Linked DNA regions of Homo sapiens: regions 2 and 3 are each linked to region 1. The links come from fine-mapping of genetic effects on gene expression. A gene starts in region 1. Each other region holds a variant in brackets. All regions are shown on one strand. Distances are from middle to middle. Region 1 holds the start of BRAT1 (BRCA1 associated ATM activator 1). Region 2 overlaps IQCE (IQ motif containing E). Region 3 has its middle 5.2 kb from the start of MIR4648.

Region 1 (2,841 bases):
GCCTAGGTGGGCGGATCACCTAAAGTCAGGAGTTCGAGACCAGCCTGGCCAACATGGTGAAACCCCGTCTCTACTAAAAATACAAAATTAGCTGGGCGTGGTGGCCCGCACCTGTAATCCCAGCTACTCGGGAGGCTGAGGCAGGAGAATCGCTTGAACCCAGGAGGTGGAGGTTGCAGTGAGTCAAGATTGAGCCATTGCACTCCAGTCTGGGCAAAAAGAGTGACACTCCGTCTCCATAAATAAATAAATAAAATAAAGGTGACCCAGCAAAGTCAGTGCTTTTAAATTTTTAAATTTTAATATCCATAGGAATTCTGCTTTGTTTCCTAAATCTGGTGTTGGCTCCCAACAATCTTGCTATAAAACAATGCTTTGGGAACATGAGCCTTGTCTATCCACTGGCTTTGAGACTCTCGAACACACAGTTAGTGTTTTGAACTCAATTTTTTGGACCTAGTTTTTCTGCCTGTTTGCTTTCTTAAAACACAGGGTCTTGCTCTGTTGCCCAGGCTGGAGTGCCGGGGCAGGATCATAGCTCACTGCAGCCTTGAACTTCTGGGCTCAAGCGATCCTCCCGCCTCAGCCTCTGGAGTAGCTGGGACCACAGGCGCATGCTACCAGGTCTGGCTGATTTTCTTTTTTTTTTTTTGAGACGGAGTCTCGCCCTGTAGCCCAGGCTGGAGTGCAGTGGCACCATCTTGGCTCACTGCAACTTCCGCCTCCCAGGTTCAAGAGATTCTCCTGCCTCAGTCTCCCGAGTACTTGGGATTACAGGCGCGCGCCTCCACGTCCGGCTAATTTTGATATCTTAGAGATACAAAAATTAGAGACGAGACGGGATTTCGCCATGTTGGCCAGGCTGGTCTCGAACTCCTGACCTCGTGATCCGCCCGCCTGGGCCTCCCAGAGCGCTGGGATTACAGGCGTGAGCCACCACGCCTGGCCTTTTTTTTTTTTTTTTTTTTTTTTTTTAAATTTTAAGAGATGGGGTCTCGCTTTGTTGCCTAGGCTGGTCTCAACTCCTGGCTTCAAGCAATCCTCCCAACTGCGCCTCCTAAAGGGCTGGAATTACAGGCATGAGCCACAGCGCGGCCGCGGAGGACTTAATTTGAGAACCTGAAGCTAAATGACCAAGGGCTTTGGTGCACGGATCAGGACGCTTCTCTCCGGCACATAGTTTTCTCGCTCCCGCCGGTGCAGACACTGGGCGCCCTGCAGGCGAAGCCCCGCCCCTCCGGACACAACCCCGCGCCTTCCTCAGAGATCCCCGCCCTCGAGACGCCCCGCCCACCCACCGGATGCTCGGCATGAACCACTAGGCGCCTGGCGGGGGTGATCTGTCGGAGCGACCGGCTTGGCGCCTGCCTGTCCCCAGCCCCTCTCAGCTTGAACTCCTTCCTTCAAGTCTGGGCCCTCGAGGCTTCCAGAGCGGCCTCCAGGGGTGCAGTCTCAGTTCCCCACGCCAGCCGTCTCCGTCCTCCGCCTCCTCCGGGCCTGGCAGGTGGCACTGTCCGGAGGCGGAGCCTTGGGCGAGGGGTGGTTGCGGCGGAGGACGCAACCGAGCGGTGAGGCGCGTGGGCCTTCGGGGGTCGAGGTCGTGGTAGTGGGGCGCGGGGAGGCCAAGACCCGGCCGAGGGGGGCGGGCGGGCCAGGGAGCAGCCCAGCCCGGGGCGTGCGCGACCTGGGCTCGCTTCCCAGCCCGACTGTGGCCGCCTGCTCTGGCGCCCCTTCTGGACTCTCGGGCCTGGCGCTCGCGGCCAAAACTGACTTCAAAGTGTGGGGAGGGTTCCTCTTCCCGGGACGCAGCCTTCCCGGGCATTGGCAGACGGTGCCCCGGTTAGACAGAGCCGCTGACCACCCCGCCCACCCCCGAGGCTGGACGCACGGATGCACACCTGGTCCTGGGAGAGACAGGCGCCCCTTCCTTTCCGCACCCCGCCGCCCCCCTCTCCCCCCCGCCGGCTTCAGATGCAGCCACCACTAATCCTGGGAGGGACAGACACACGGACAGGTGCCCCTTCCCCTCCTCACCCTCCTACTGGCTGCAGAACAGCAAATGCAGCCACCACTGACCCTGAGAGGGACAGACACACGGACAGGCGCCCCTTCCCCTCCGCACCCCCCTGCTGGCTTCAGGACGTCAAATGCAGCCACCACTTGACGCTGGGAGGGACAGAAACTTTCCAGCCCAGGCTGGCCCTGGGGCATGGGTAGACATCCCCTTGCACACATGGCTGACCCCGGAACTCAAAGATGCCCCTGACTCTGGCCCACCTGCAGCCTGGGCCAGCACCACGCTGTTGCCCCGACTGCACCAAAGACCAAGGGTGACAGACTTTGAGTTCCGGAGGCCTTGTGGTTTCAGCTAGACCCTCATCTGCCCCTTTCAGCCCCGCCACCAGCGCTCAGGGCCCCACCTAGACCAAAGCTTTGCATCCATCCCTGCAGTACAGACCTCTGGTCTGGGGATCATGGTTCTCCTGGTCTGAGATGAAAGTTCTGGGGCCCCTTCCCAGGCCTGAGCAGGCATGGTGGGCTGCTGTGACTAGAGCGAGCTGGGTCTGGAGTGGGCATTGAGGTTTGGCTCTCACATTGCCTTTGCAGGGCCTGCGGCCTCACCATGGACCCAGAATGCGCCCAGCTGCTCCCGGCTCTCTGTGCTGTTCTGGTAGATCCCAGGCAGCCGGTGGCAGATGACACCTGTTTGGAGAAGCTCCTGGACTGGTTTAAAACGGTCACTGAAGGAGGTAAGGAGGTGGTGCTGCTGTTTACTGCCTATCCAGAGACCAGACGCAGAGGCTGGGACAGGGAGCAGGGGCCAGATGGGGACTCCCCTGT
Region 2 (2,500 bases), 24 kb before region 1:
TTTCTTTTTTTTTATTCTAACATTCAACAAATCCTCCTGGTGCTCTGTCCCTGCTGGCGCCTGTGAATCCACACTATTTCCCACAGTATCTCTATCCAGCCTCTATTGATAGACACTTTTTTTTTTTTGAGACAGAGTTTCACTCTTGTAGCCCAGGCTGGAGTGCAGTGGCACGATCTCAGCTCACTGCAACCTCCACCTCCCAAGTTCAAGTGATCCTTCTGCCTCAGCCTCCTGAGTAGCTGGGATTACAGGCACGCGCCATCATACCTGGCTAATTTTTTTGTATTTTTAGTACAGATGGGGCTTCACCATGTTGGCCAGGCTGGTCTTGAACTCCTGACTTCAGGTGATCCACCTGCCTCAGCCTCCCAAAGTGCTGGGATTACAGGCATGAGGAACTGTGCCCGGCAGATAGACACTTTTAAAATCTTTTTTTTTTTTTTTGGCTATGCTCTAAAATCTATCACTGTAGCCTACTGACACATACTTAAGTTGTAGCCCATTTTTGTGATTCTGGTCAATCCTCCAATCGAAATCCTTGGCCAGGCCTCCTCAGGCACATCTGCAAATGTTTCTTGAAGGCAGGTGATGACACGTAGACACGGCAGGCCACAGGGCACAGCCACACTGATGGACAATTTGCCATATGATAATGAATACTGCATATACCCTAGGATCTGGAATTCCTACTTTAAACTAACCTCAGCCAGGTGCAGTGGCTGAGGCCTGTAATCCCAACACTTTAGGAGGCCAAGGCAGAAGGATCACATGAGCCTGGGAAACTTCGCAAGACCCCATCTTACCAAAACTAAAAAAAAATTAGCTGCCTGTGGTGGCACGTGCCTGTAGTCCCGGGTACTCAGGAGGTTGAGGTGGGAGTATCCCCTAAGCCAGGGATCACGTGAGCTGAATGCTGCAGTGAGCCATGATCCTGCCACTGCACGCCAGCCTGGGCAACAGAGTGAGTCCCTGTCTCAAGAAAAAAAAAAATACCCACAGACACACACACACACACACACACACACACACACACACACCACCAGAACAACAAAAACATGGAGCCTTTTCTTTACAAAAGTACCCACTACTTACAGGCATTTGTTA[A/G]GGATTTACTTTGTGCCGTCCTAGGTGCCGAGCTAGGCTTTCACCATCTACTTTAAACATGTAATGATTATACAATCTTTCTACATTCTATATCTGTGACATAGTTCAGAGGACACGGCCTTTTTTCTTTAGAGATTTATAGTTTTTTTTGTATTTTCTAAACAGAAAACTTTGTTGTATTGATCCATAATATCCTTCTCCTCCCCCATTACAGTGATCTGGTTGCTACCTTAGTCCCATGGCTTTTTATTATGTAACTTTTAATTTTACATTATCAAATCCATTAATCACATCATTAATGTTATTTTATTCTTTGCGTTCAATAATCTCAAAATCGTATCCCTTTCGGTTTTCTTCCACCATGTCCCACTTTAGAGAAGTACTTCCTTGACTGCTAGGAGGTGTACTGTGCCACCTACAGCTGATCGCCACAGCATTACCACCGAACCGCAACATCTTCCCTGCTTCCATTTCATTCAACTTCTTACATATTGTCACATAGTATCTGAGGGGGGTCTGGATCTATCTGAAGGACGTTATTGCTGCCCTGGTTCCCTGATTTACATCTGTAGCACCTTTTTTTTTTTTTTTTGGTCACCCAGGCTGGAGTGCAGTGGCGCGATCTCAACTCACCGCAACCTCTGCCATACAGGTTCAAGCAATTCTTGTGCCTCAGCCTCCTGAGTAGCCGGGACTACAGGAGCATGCTGCCATACCCGGCTTTTTTGTATTTTTAGTAGAGACAGGGTTTCACAACGTTGGCAAGGCTGGTCTCGAACTCCTGACCTCAAGTGATCTGCCTGCCTCGGCCTCCCAAAGCGCTGGGAGCGCTTGTTAAGCTTAATGTATTTTCTCAGGTGTGAGGGGGAAGTCGCCCGTTGTGATGGGTTTTTCCTACAGTGTCTTGCTTGGCCTCTGTGGTGAGCCTGCTGGCCCCCCTCCCCGTGGTGTCCCCAGGTGTCAGTGGAGAAGGGTTTGGGGGTCCGCAGCCTCCCCCCTGCCTGCTGCTCTTCACGCGTGGGTGCTGCAGGGAAAGGCGTCCCTCTGTGGCTGTCCCCAGTAACTAGCGTCTGGGGAAAGGCTCTGTCCTGCACACACCATACTCACCCAACTGGCATCGGGCCTTTTCTCTGCCAGAGTCCGAACAAAATCCGTGCCCTGTGGTAAGCAGATTGAGACATGAAGACGGCCTTCGGTGTAGCCCCCAGCAGGGCTGGCTGGCAGATGCTGCCCCGAGGACCCTCCCCTTGCCCCGTCCGTGAAGCGCCAGGAGCTTACGCGGCTGGGATCCAGGAGCTGCTCTATCTGCCGGTCCTTCCTGCTGTTTTCCTCCTCCAGGCGCCGGAGCTTCGTTCTCATCAGGTCCACGTCGCTCTTCTGCACGTGCAATGAC
Region 3 (2,841 bases), 23 kb after region 1:
ATGTGCTTTGTTAAACAGATGCTTGAAGGCAGCATGCTCGTTAAGAGTCATCACCACTCCCTAATCTCAAGTACCCAGGGACACAAACACTGCGGAAGGCCGCAGGGACCTCTGCCTAGGAAAACCAGAGACCTTTGTTCACTTGTTTATCTGCTGACCTTCCCTCCACTATTGTCCTGTGACCCTGCCAAATCCCCCTCTGCGAGAAACACCCAAGAATGATCAATAAAAAAAAAAAAAATAAAAAAAAAAAGAACGAAACTCCATCTCAAAAAAAAAAAAAAAAAAAAAATCTCCCAAAGAAATACCAATAAACAAGAAAATAGTCAAATGTAAAAAAAAAAAAAAAAAAAAAAAAAAAATTTCCAAAAAGGTGACCACAGGGAGAAAAACATGAAGATAACCACCAGCTCAGACCCAGCCGGGGCTTGTGGCCATGCCCACCTGCTCCTGTGTGTCCTGGGCCTCGGGCAAGCCACTCATCCTCTCCCCACTGTTTCCAGTCTGTAAGCTGGGATTAGTGACGCTGCCTTCTCAGTTGTGGGAACCTAGAAGGCAGCAATGGGCCTCTCTCCCTAGGTTGCAACCCGGGGCTGGCACGTAGTAGGTCTGTTTCCAGCTGCCACACACGCTACCTTACCAGGGGTCCCCAAGAGACAGGACAGGGTGATGGGCCCATTTCACAGGGGGAAAAACCGAGGCAAAGAAAGGCAGTGGAGACTCGTGCTTCTGCTTCAGTAGCTCCTGCCATGGACTTGTCATGGGAACCCCCTCCCACAAGCTCTGTCCCCGGCACCCTCTGGCACTGTTAGCCAGCGGAATCCAGCTGTCACCATGGCCTGGTTCTTAGCACCCCTGGGAACTTTTAGAGCCTCTGGCCTGTGCTAACTGAGGTTGGGCAGCTGCTGGCCAGGGCCCTAGAGAGAGGGGTATCAGGTAGCTAGTGCTGAGTAACAAATAGCTCCAAACACATGACTTCACATGTCCTTAGTATTAAAGGGCCTGGTGGTACTGCTGCTCATTGCTAGGCCTGGCAAGTCCTAGCTGGGCTCACTCACACATCTGTGGGCAGCTGGGAGCTAGCTAGTCCAGGATGGCCTCAGCTAGGGTGACCCAGGCTCCATCGCCCTCTTGCCTTCCAGCAAAGCAGCCCAGCCCGTTCTCGTGCTATAGCAGGAGTCGGGGAGAGCAGGCAGAGGCACGCATGTCCCTGGAGGCTTAAGCTCAGAGCTGGGAATGTCATTGCTGTCACCTTTTATTGGCCACAGCAAGTCATAAGACAGGCTCAGATTGAAGGATGGGGAAGTAGACGCCACCTCTAGACAGGAGTTGGGGCAAAGTCACACAGCAAAGGGCGTGGTGATTCAGGGAGGAGTGGGGCATCGGGGACACGTTTGTAACTGATCTACCACAGAGGGGAGCCCCCCTTTGAGAAAGTGCT[T/C]GGTGGGCCTTGGTGCTTACGCAGCCACGGACCAACCTGCTAGATGGGGCCTTCAGTAGGGTGGCGGGACGTCAGTTTAGCCTCAGGATTCGACTCCGAGCCTCTTGCGAGACCACGTCTTGGGCAGCATCGTAGACCCGGCTGTGAGCACAGAGTGGCTCTTCCAGAAAGTTTGTTGAATGACTGACTGACCTAAGTCAGTCCCTGTGCCAGGCAGCCCAGAGGGACCAGCCCAGAGCCTCCTTCTCGGGGTGCAAGCCTGGCTTGGGATTGGGGGGTGTCTGCACTCGTGGAGCCCCCCATGCCTGCCGGGAGCCTGAAGACGCAGAGACCTCCTGCCTCGCCTCGCCCCCTCCGTGGGGACCCTCTTCCCCACACTCCTTGGTTCCTGTCGGAGCCAAGATGTGTCACCATGGAAACCGCTTGGCAAACGCTGGCAGGCAGAGGCGGCCAACAGCAGCTCTCCCGATCGAGCTCCGGGCACCGGCTGGAGCAACGTCGCGGGACGGCGTGAGCGAGCACACCCAGCCGTGTGTGACACGCGTGGGGACAGAGGCCGGGGCGGCTGCGGGAGGGCGTGCGGGGAGGTCAGGGCGCCCCGGCGTGTATGCGCCCACGTGCGCGCCTGTGCGTGTGCCAACAGTGCAGCCACATCGGAGCGCGTGTGCTCCGAGTGTGATGGCCGCGTGGGCCGGTGCAGGGTGTGTGTGGGGATGGGGGTGTCTGATTGGTGCTGTGACCTGCGGCAGCACAGCCGCCTGCGTTGAGTGCCCACGGTGGGCTGGACATTGCACTAGGTGCTGACAGGACCGGCAGAGGTGGCCACTGCCCTCGTCCCCAGCCTGCACTCCTGGGCGAAGGCTGACGCTGAACAGGTACTTGTAAGAGTCGCCGAAGTGCGTGCCGGGAGGGTTCTGGGAAGAGGCAGCTGTGGGGCCTGAAGCCTAAATGTGGGGTGGGAGGCATCCAGGCTGCGGCTCCAGGCAGAGGGCACAGCCCGGCTGTGAGCCACCACGCCTGGCCCCAAGGGCCTTCCTGTGTGTCCAATTCTGGGCTCAGAAGCAGGGGGTCACCCTGCAGAATATCTAAGAAGGCTGAGGCTGTGTGGGCACATGGACCCAGCAGGGAACAAGACTTGCCCATTGTTCTGACAGACTCGAAGATGGATCTGGCCCTGGTCCCTGCTTTCCCTCTGACCCCAGGCCCACCCGGCAAGAATGGCTGAAGTCACATAGCAGCCTGGCCCTGGCCCCTCTGAGCCTGTGGAGAGCCCTAGTTGTCTGTGATTGGGGAGGGGGGATCAAGAGACCCAACTGCATTGCCTGCCCTCCTTCCCAGGCTTCCAGTCCTCCCAGTGGATCCCACCTCTGCACCTTTGCCCAGGCTGTGCTGAGACCTGG

What was found. PIP is the estimated chance that this variant, and not a neighbour inherited with it, causes the effect.
Region 2: its variant is fine-mapped to the expression of BRAT1 in whole blood (INTERVAL, PIP above 0.99).
Region 3: its variant is fine-mapped to the expression of BRAT1 in whole blood (INTERVAL, PIP above 0.99).

The regions. Positions count from the first base shown.
Region 1 is chr7:2,554,214-2,557,054 of GRCh38, reverse strand. BRAT1 (BRCA1 associated ATM activator 1) reads left to right here and starts at 1,531. Exons shown (of 14, transcript NM_152743.4): 1 at 1,531-1,568; 2 at 2,608-2,750. The coding sequence starts at 2,624. RefSeq lists an enhancer at 947-1,624 and a silencer at 1,537-1,776.
Region 2 is chr7:2,578,241-2,580,740 of GRCh38, reverse strand. IQCE (IQ motif containing E) reads right to left here. Exons shown (of 22, transcript NM_152558.5): 7 at 2,386-2,499; 8 at 2,215-2,265. Among named protein-coding and RNA genes, the nearest start is that of IQCE, 21 kb to the right of the region's middle. The variant A/G (reference allele first, on the strand shown) is at 1,108.
Region 3 is chr7:2,530,898-2,533,738 of GRCh38, reverse strand. No RefSeq gene overlaps it. Among named protein-coding and RNA genes, the nearest start is that of MIR4648, 5.2 kb to the right of the region's middle. RefSeq lists enhancers at 1-288, 1,474-2,446, 2,841. The variant T/C (reference allele first, on the strand shown) is at 1,442.